2 linked regions of the Homo sapiens genome follow. The protein of the gene in region 1 purifies or fractionates together with the protein of each later gene. This does not show direct contact. Each region holds a gene or a part of one and is shown on either strand. Other genes may lie near its edges.

The links. Proteins that work in one complex are often made in the same cells at the same time.
Region 2: the proteins of PCCA (region 1) and THG1L fractionate together in Homo sapiens (co-fractionation; one large-scale study listed by BioGRID). This does not show direct contact.

What each region holds. Positions count from the first base shown.
Region 1 is NC_000013.11:100,301,992-100,306,563, reverse strand, and holds part of PCCA (propionyl-CoA carboxylase alpha chain, mitochondrial isoform a precursor), read right to left. Parts: intron 3,641-4,572; coding exon 3,566-3,640; intron 814-3,565; exon of another isoform or gene 730-813; intron 1-729. UniProt on the Homo sapiens protein: This is one of the 2 subunits of the biotin-dependent propionyl-CoA carboxylase (PCC), a mitochondrial enzyme involved in the catabolism of odd chain fatty acids, branched-chain amino acids isoleucine, threonine, methionine, and valine and other metabolites.
Region 2 is NC_000005.10:157,729,512-157,734,219, reverse strand, and holds the start of THG1L (probable tRNA(His) guanylyltransferase), read right to left. Parts: upstream 2,801-4,708; 5' UTR 2,780-2,800; coding exon 2,589-2,779; intron 2,422-2,588; exon of another isoform or gene 2,211-2,421; intron 1,791-2,210; exon of another isoform or gene 1,610-1,790; coding exon of another isoform or gene 1,605-1,609; intron 1,353-1,604; coding exon 1,176-1,352; intron 1-1,175. UniProt on the Homo sapiens protein: Adds a GMP to the 5'-end of tRNA(His) after transcription and RNase P cleavage. This step is essential for proper recognition of the tRNA and for the fidelity of protein synthesis.

The DNA of each region.
Region 1 (4,572 bases):
GGCTGATTGCTGTTAACCAGCCAACGAGTGAGTTAGTACATCACTGATTCTTGTTTTCATTTCCCAGTTTGATACCAGCAGCAAGGCACGGAGGTTAGCCATGCAAAACTTTAAAAATGAGCAGTTACTGAGGACAGAACATTTATTAAATTATTAGAAAGAAGTTTTGGAATCTGAAGTATTTAAAAGCTAATCAAAATACTTCAGACTGTCAGGCACATCCTAGGGGTCTTGAGGATGGAGGAACTGAATCAAAGCTGCTGGAACAGCAGGACTTTGATGCCCAACATTGTAAAGGGGTGGGAAGAGAAGAGCGGAAGCTCACGTAGCCTTCCACCTGTGGGAAGAAGCCTTCCTAATAAACAGCAGCTCATCTGTCTGCAGCAAGGCAGAAAAAGGTCAACACAGCGGCTGTTAGGCCTTTAATATTTTAATTTAGGCAATTATCAAGGGACCACATGTAGAACCTCTTGTCTAGGATATCCACATGAGGGTATAATGATGGCTTTATTATACGGTGACATCAGAAGACAAGCGATAGTTTCATTTTCTTAAAATTCACACTACTATTATTCTCTTTGTAAGGTTGTAAAAGGAACACTATAACATACCTGAAGGGCTTTTATTTCTGTATTTGCAAGCACAAACAAAAATATAGATATCTGTATTCGTATTCACATTCATATACAAAAATCTTAATTATAAACAAAAATCATTCAGCACACTTACGAAATATACTTGGCTTTCTATTTTCTGAAAACATATTTCAGGACATAAACTGATGTTCTATGAAATTCACAGTGTTGACAAAAACTAGAAAAAAATTAATGGAGCAGCTTTAAAAGCAATAAAATCACAATCTACCTTTTCCCCACATTAAAGAGCCCCAAAATGGCAACTAGTAAACGGGTTACATAACAGAAAATATATCTGTGAGTTTTCATTTTCTTAATTTTAGTACTAAAAAGTGAAAGAGCTAATTTGACCACTATGTCATCTTTAAAACCACAGCATGCTTGCTAATGCTGTGTTTACAAACGAGACTGATACAAGTTCTAAAACTTCTGACTTTAACTACATCCTATCATTTGCTACATAAACTGCTACAAAGCTAGGAAGAACTTAGATGTTCAACCCACAAATAAAATAACATAGACAATAAAGAATATTTATTATGTTCTTCTACAGTTCCTTACTTAAAACTTCAGTTGCCTTGAATAATATCATCCTATAAGGTGTTACCTACAGATCTTAATTAAATATAACTGTCTTTGTTATTTACTAATATTATGATCACAGAAGTTATGTCATCTTAACTTTAAAATACATACGATAAAATCAAGATATATATAAACACGTATCTTTGTATAAGCAAATCAGTATTCCCAATTAAAAACTGTACCACAGTATGAAAACTCTGCTTTATAATTTACTATTTATGCTGCTTTTTCCAAGTAATAATCAGCTATATTTTTATTTCTTAACAACCAATCTGAAGTCAGATCAAGTCTCCATTCCTTCAATGAAAGGCTATACAAATTTGCACTAAAAACTTTAAGAAAAAATTCAAATGAAATCAGAACCAAATTTCTGAGCAGAACAAAACTGTGGTCTGAAAATAACAAATTTACAAAACATGATGATCAAAAATAAAAAAGGAAATCTTCACCTCTGCCATATTAATAAATCTCAGGCTTAATGAAGCATGTGAAAAGTACAAACCATAAGTTAACTCTTAAGTATGCATTCTTGTGACCAAAAAAGGTAAGAGCCAAAAATTGTTTTCTAAGGTAAACTGACTGCTCTAGTTTTAATAAGACAAGGAAGAAAAACAAACAATAACAACCACAACAAAACACCCAAGCACCTCTGTACGAGATTCTCAAACCACTGCTCAGAAACCTCTAGCATAATTAAAATTTCTGTCTTCAGTACCACAGTGGACTCTGTGAAACTATCAGACATCTCCCACCCTTCATTCTCAATTCACCTCTCCCCCTAAGCACAACTCCCAGCCCGCCATGTCTACCTGACAAGTGACAGCCCAATCTGATTAAATGCTTCCAAGGGAGGGGACTCATGGGCCTCCATGACAGGCCAAAAGTGATCACCATGGAGATACATAATTACAGCTGTCAACGCATCTACTGTCCTGCTGACATCAATTTGATTGCTCCCAGCAATAATGATAGACAAAGCTTAGTGTGCACTCTCCTGCACCCAATCACTTTATCTACTCCTTGGTCCATTTAGCTGACATGCAACATTCACACAAGCAAATAACAGCAGTAAGCAGAACATTTAAGGCATTTTAATTGTTTTTTCTTTCTATGGATGGCTCACAACTGCAAATGTTATTACATAAAACTCCTGCTGCAGCATTAATTGAAGAAAGATTTGGTGGGATGAAGACTGTAGGGGGTATAGTTTGTCCATTATCACTTGTACTTTCAACAGGTCTCACGTTTGAAAATTGCAAATTGCAAAAACTTGCGAGGGCAAAATGTTTGACATCCTGTTAGCTATTACAACATGGTGAAAACTTCTAACAACTAGAGTAATCATTATGAATTCTTATTTAATACTTCTTTTGTTTGATTAAAAAAGTGTTTAGATATGTCCCTATGATACTTGTTTTCTCATGTGCTATTTAACGTCACATAATGCCTGTTAAATCTTCACAATTTTTTTTCTGCCTTCTGGCTTTGAACACAGCATGGAGTCTCCAAGCACAGAAAGGGTCAAGTCCCTTTAGAAAGCACATGGGCAAAAACAATTTAAAAAGTGAAATAAATCATATATCCAATAATATCTTCAGATTTAGAATTCTTCCTGTAATCTTTCACCATCTTCATGCCAGTAATCAAAATGAATAATTTGAATATTCACAGATGGTACAGCCTTGTCATCTACTAGCTAACATAATGTCATATATATATATATATATGCACTTATTACCTTGATTAAGAAAAAGGGTATGTCCTTGCTCTTTTTCTGCAACAAAAACTATTTTCAAAATAGCTATTAAATACAGAAGAGCTATGGAATAAAATGGACAGTGGTCACTTTTATTTAACTGATATAAATATTATTACTCTTTAAAGTCCATGAGGTTTAATAGACTGAGGCACACTTTGTTTGCCTTAATTCAATCTCCTTAAATTTCAATTAAGGAGCTGATTTTGTGCTTGAATTTCTTGACAAGTGACTATATAGCAGGGTTGGACTCGATTTATTGAAAAGATTAAATTGTAACACAAAACATCATTTCTCATTCTTAGGATTCACAGCCTTTTTTATTATAATTTTCGAAAGAATTGGGAACACTGTAAGCTATCATTTATATCATCAGATGTCCCCAGGCTTCCCCTGTCCAGTGAATCCTGACTTTCTTGAACACCACAAAATACTGAAAAAAATTTGTTTTCAACACAAAAACCATGATTCCCATGAATTTCACTTGTCCTTCAATTTACACCCTTTGGTGTTGACATGCTTTAACATAAAAGTATGACATAAATCACGATTTTAACCCTTCAGCTGGTATTACAGCTTAATGACTTACACCAGGTAGATGTAACGGTTCTTGGTACTGAGACAATCTCCCAATAGATGGTAAACCAAAAGACTTGTAGGGGTCCTGAAAGTTCAAAGGAAAGGAAGCACAGTCTTTGAAATATAAATCAGCACAAGTAAGGTTAAATATTTACACAATGAAGAACCATTTATAGGTCTATTTTCAACATATGGTATTTACCAAATCACAGATTTCAGAATATTATTGTCTTTTACGCTAGACAACTTAGAATGTACTTAAAAATCAAACAGAACTGTAAGCAGAATTTAGCCTGACCTTGTTCATACTTTATTGAAATTGGTAAAATTCCAACATTTTATAAAACTTCTTAGAATGCCTTGGGCAAAAAATAAAATAACCTAGGCCCTACATCAAAACATACTCAAGTTTAGAACAACAAATGTGGTATACTAAAGATATTTGTTTTTCTTACTTCTCAAAACAGTTCACATATGGTAAAACTTGAGAATTTGGGTTCTTCAAATAAAGACCTGAAAAAAAAAACTTTGCACGCTACTAGATATGCACTTCATTTGTAAATATCTTAGATCATCAGAATAAACAGGTTCAGTGTCATAAGAATGAAAGTAATACTACTTAAAATATGAAAAAAGCAAGAGCAATACAGTCACGCCAAAACATATTTTTGAACTCCTTGAAAAATATTTCAAACCAGCTCTCAGTATTCTTAAACACAGACACTGATTTATTTTTAATCTTGACAGACATTTTTGATGTCGAAAAGTAAAAATAGTACAAATGTTACCTTGCATTCTTGTTTTAGTCATTTGAAAAAAAGCATTTAGAAGTACTGAACTGAGAGTTTATGAGTAAAACCCAAAATTAAAATTATAAATTAAGAGTACATGTTTTACTAAAAGCTTTACAATTTAAATTTTGATTGTTATTTTTATGTAATAATAAAGGAGAAAATTATACAAAAAAAAGGTTGGGAAAAATTTTAAGTAAATATCTGATCAACAACTAATGTGTAC
Region 2 (4,708 bases), on another chromosome or scaffold:
GATGGGGTTTCACCATGTTGGCCAGGCTAGTCTCAAACTTCTGACCTCAAGTCATCTGCCTGCCTCAGCCTCCCAAAGTGCTGGGATTACAGGCGTGAGTCATCACACCTGGCCAGTTATGTATTTTAAATGCAGCCTGCCTCTCCTTCCAGTTCTATTAAGTAACCTACTGATACTAAACCTTTCCCTACAGGATGTGATACGAATTTATGATTCAAGGGGTATTTTTAAATTTTATTTTATTTTTTAAAAGATGGAATCTCTCTGTCCCTCAGGCTGGGGTGGATTGGCACAATCATAGCTCACTGCTGCCTCAAATTCCTTGGCTCAATGGATCCTCCTGCCTCAACCTCCTTAGTAGCTGTGACTATAGGCACATGCCACTGAGCCCGGCTAATTTTTAAATTTTTTGTAGAGATGAGGTCTCACCATCTTGCCCAGGCTGGTCTCAAACCTCTGGGCTCAAGTAATCCTCTCCCTTACCCTCTCAAAGTGTTGGGATTACAGGCGTGAGCCACCACGCCTGATCTGTTTGTGTTTACAGTCATGAAAGGAGAGAAACCATTGTTGTAAAAAAAATGCCAATTCAGGCTGGGCGTGGTGGCTCATGTCTGTAATCCTAGCACTTCGAGAGGCCAAGACAGGAGAACTGCTTGAGGCCAGGAGTTTGAGACCAGCCTGGGCAACACAGAGAGACCCCACCTCTATTAAAAAAAGAAAGAAAGAAAAAACCAATTCATTATATGATTTGTTTCCCATACAGCGTTTCAAAATACTGCCAAATCAAATATCAGATTTGTGTATTTTATAATGAGATCTGTCTTGAGGAACAGTGTAATGCAATGCACGTAGAGACTATCACTGGCTAAAGCCAACCTATGAATTGTTAATATTACATTCTTATAGTCTCTGTTTCTAATCTTAATGTTCAATGCCAGGTCAGTCTAGAAACCAATCTTATGGGGCATGTGGGGAAAGAATCAGATAAAAGAGGCACACAGAATGCTCGGCTATCAGATGGAAGTACAACAATCTAAACAGGAAATATACATGTACTCTGCAGTTACAAATACTGCAGACATCATCTGTAGCCTGTAAGTCTGCGATTAAGATAAACAGAAAACCAGATGCTGGGAGGAAATATTCTGAAGAAAGGAGTTAGGTCATGGAATTACCTGGCTCTTCTTTTAAACCAATTGGTTTTCCGCTTGAACACAAAGCTGTACTCATCACTCTGTCCATACGCGATCACAATATCCTCTAGTTCTTCCATCACAGTCTGCGCACATTTGGTCATCAGCTGGAGAGCACGGCTGTCATTGGGTTTTGCAAAGTTGTGCTTCTCAGCAAACCTTCACAGGGGAAAAAGGGAAGAAAGCATGGATGGAAGCCTGTCATTAACAACACGCTCTGTTGCTAGATAACAGAGGCTGTTTGGAGGAAGATAATGTAATAGCACTGTGAACTCAAATGCTCAACTAGCCACAACCTGATCCATTTTCTTAAGAACTTAGTTTTTTTCCTGCCCTGAAATTGAGAAAGCCAGACAGAAATGCTAAGCCTCAACTCTCCTTTCTGTGAAATGGGAATAAAAGAATATTTACCTCATTGGGTTGTCCTGAAGATTAGGGAGAAGATAAAAGTAATCATACCTAGCTCCTAGTAAGTGCTCAATAAATGTTAGTTATAATAATCATTAACAATGCAGCCCTCTTCAAAGATTAAATTCCCATCTTTCTGTTATATTTCTTTCTCCCCCTCCCTCTTTTTCTGAGACAGGGTCTTGCTCTGTCACCCAAGCTGGAGTGCAGTGTCCAATCACCGCTCACTGCAGCCTTGACCTCCCAGGCTCAAGCGATCCTTCCACCTCAGCCTTCCCAGTAGCTGGAACTACATGTGTGCACCACTGCGCCGGGCAAATTAAATTTTTTCTTTTTCTTTCTTTCTCTCTTCCTTCTTTCTCTCTCTCTCTCTCTTTTTTTTTTTTTTTTTTTTTTTTTTTTTGTAGTGGCGGAGTTTCACAAACAACAACCACAGAAAAAACAAAACAAAAACAAAAACTTGGTCTCCAACTCCTGGCCTTAAGTGATCCTCCTGCCTCCCGCGCCCAGCCTTCTCTTTTTTTCTGACTCTCTGTTGAATCTAGTCCATGTGGCCTGTTACTGATAATGAAGCACAGACGTTAAGTATTGCCCACAAGCAAGGCTTACACAGACTTCTGAACAGTCAGCATTCAAAGATATCTAACAGAATAGCTAGGCAATTGGCTTAAGAGCTTAAATATTGTGCATGAGAGTGACTTTTAACAACAGGTCCTTGCTAACAAGTCTCTGTTCACTTAACACGGGCACTCCAAGCCAGATCCTCATCACGGGAGCACATCGCCCATTCAATTACGCTAACAGCCAGCGTTCAGGCACTGTCCTAGCCAACACGCAGGGCGGGGCAATGCTCCATGCTGCGCACTCATTGGCTACCGCGTTACCCTGGTAACCGTGACTGGAGCGGGCGGGAGGACTTGCAAGGGAAGAAGCTGGATTCCCCGGAAGCGCTGGCGCATCGCGACGCCCCGAGTCGAGCTCGCTCACCGATGGAAATTCCGGCCGTCCAGCCGCACTACCACCCAGCAGTGTGCCAGGCAGGTGTCGTCAGCCTCGAAGTCCCTCACGTACTCGAACTTGCTTTTTGCCATGGTCGCCCCCAATCTCAGGTACCGTCTCAGAGTGATGGAAATGGTGGCCAAGGAATCGTGAACCTTAACTTTACAGGCGCCCCACATTCTACACGCGGAAAGGAAAGGGCCAGATAGCCCCGCCCCGGAAGTGTTCTCTTCGCGGCTACTCTAGCCGTAGGGCAGTCATAGTCTCTCTCGCCTCTCCCTGTAGTTCTTAACCTCCCAGGCAAAGAGGATGGAGGTTTAGGTTCCTCCGTTAGCACCTTCCACGCTTGCTTCTTCCTCCTCCCGTCCTGCGGCAAATCAGTCTCACGAGGTTTTTAAAAATTATTTTTTATCTGCTGGTCTTGACTTACTGGCAAAAGCAATCAGTGTCCCCGTTAGTGCCCAGATCAAAATCATACCCCAACCTAAAAAAAAAAAAAAAAAAAAAAATTCTTTTTCTGGTGTTTGAAGGTGTAGCTGTGATGTTTCCCCTTTTCTTAGTGGCATTTATTAACTTGTAGAAAATCTGGAATACACCAAAACTATAGTTAAGAAAATTAACACTTTGTTTCTCCGTCTTTCCCATCAAAGCATTGTGGATGGTTCCTTTCAGTCTTTTTTCTTTTTGTGTATGTAGGTTTACACAGGGAATGCACAAGATTGGAATTATTCGCCTATACAATGTTTATATATTTTTCCACTCAGCTTGAGCATTTGCCAGTATCATCAATTATTCCAAAGTGTGATTTTTAAAAGAAAAATGGACTCAATATTCCAACATATGGGTATACTAAATTGATTTATTCAACTTTTTCACCATTAAATAATCACAGAACCAGTGTTTGATATCTTGTTGCTGGTGGATAATAGTAAAAATAAAATCCTAATATTTGTGTCATACTTTGTGATTTACAAAGCTCTTTCAAATTCATTACCTACTTACTTACTTTTTTTTTTTTTCCATCCTCAAGAAAGATATTCAGGCCAGGCACGGTGGCTGACGCCTGTAATCCCAGCACTTTGGGAGGCAGAGGCAGGAGGATTGCTTGAGTTCAGGAGATTCATACCAGCCTTGGCAACGTAGCAAGACCCCTGTTCCTACAAAAAAGAAAAAAAATTATCCAGGCTTAGTAGCCCATGCCCGTAGTCCTAGCTATGGGAGGATGAGGTGGGAAGATACTTGAGGCCAGGAGTTCGAGACTGCAGTGACCCATCATTAGCCACTGCACTCCAGCCTTGGTGACAGAGCAAGAATCTGTCTCTAAAGAAAAAGAAAAATATTCAAACAATATAAATCCTTTTATATGTAGCAAAAAGTCTCTCACTGACTCCTAACAACATACTTTAGGCAGTTACTGTTACCAGTTTTTTGTGTATCCATACAGGGATCTATATCAGTATGTGTGTATATCCTCATAATAGTACCACAAATGGTAGTCATCACTCCTTTGATGCTCAGAGTAACATCAGAGGGATGCAAAAGAGGAACTGGGATTTCACCTTTACAAAGGGGAAATCTGAGACTCAAAGAGAAAAAAATAATTTACATAAGGTCACATATGTGGCAGGACCAAGACATAAATTATGACATCCTGCATCTTTTCTTTGTTTCTGTTGCTGTGAAGTCAGTTTTCTGTAGGTTATCATTCCTCACCTTTTACTTCCACAAACTCCTCTCTCCAAGCTGACCAGGAGACAACCAAATCTTGCCTCCTCTAGGAGCCCTACTTTCATTAGGTGAATTTTTCAAAATTACTTATCAATATGAATTCATGATTTTTATTTTTTTTATGTGTATGTTTTCGAGACAGAGTCTCACTGTCACCTAGGCTGGAGTACAATGGCATGATCTCAGCTCACTGCAGCCTAGACCTCTTGGGTTCAGGTGAACCTCCCACCTCCCTTCCTAGTAGCTGGGACTACAGGTGCGTGCCACCATGCCCACCTAATATTTGTATTTTTTTTTGTAGAAACAGGGTTTCCCCATCCACATCCCACACTGGGAGATGAGACTCCTATCAGGGATGGGCTGAATATAAAATAAGCCAA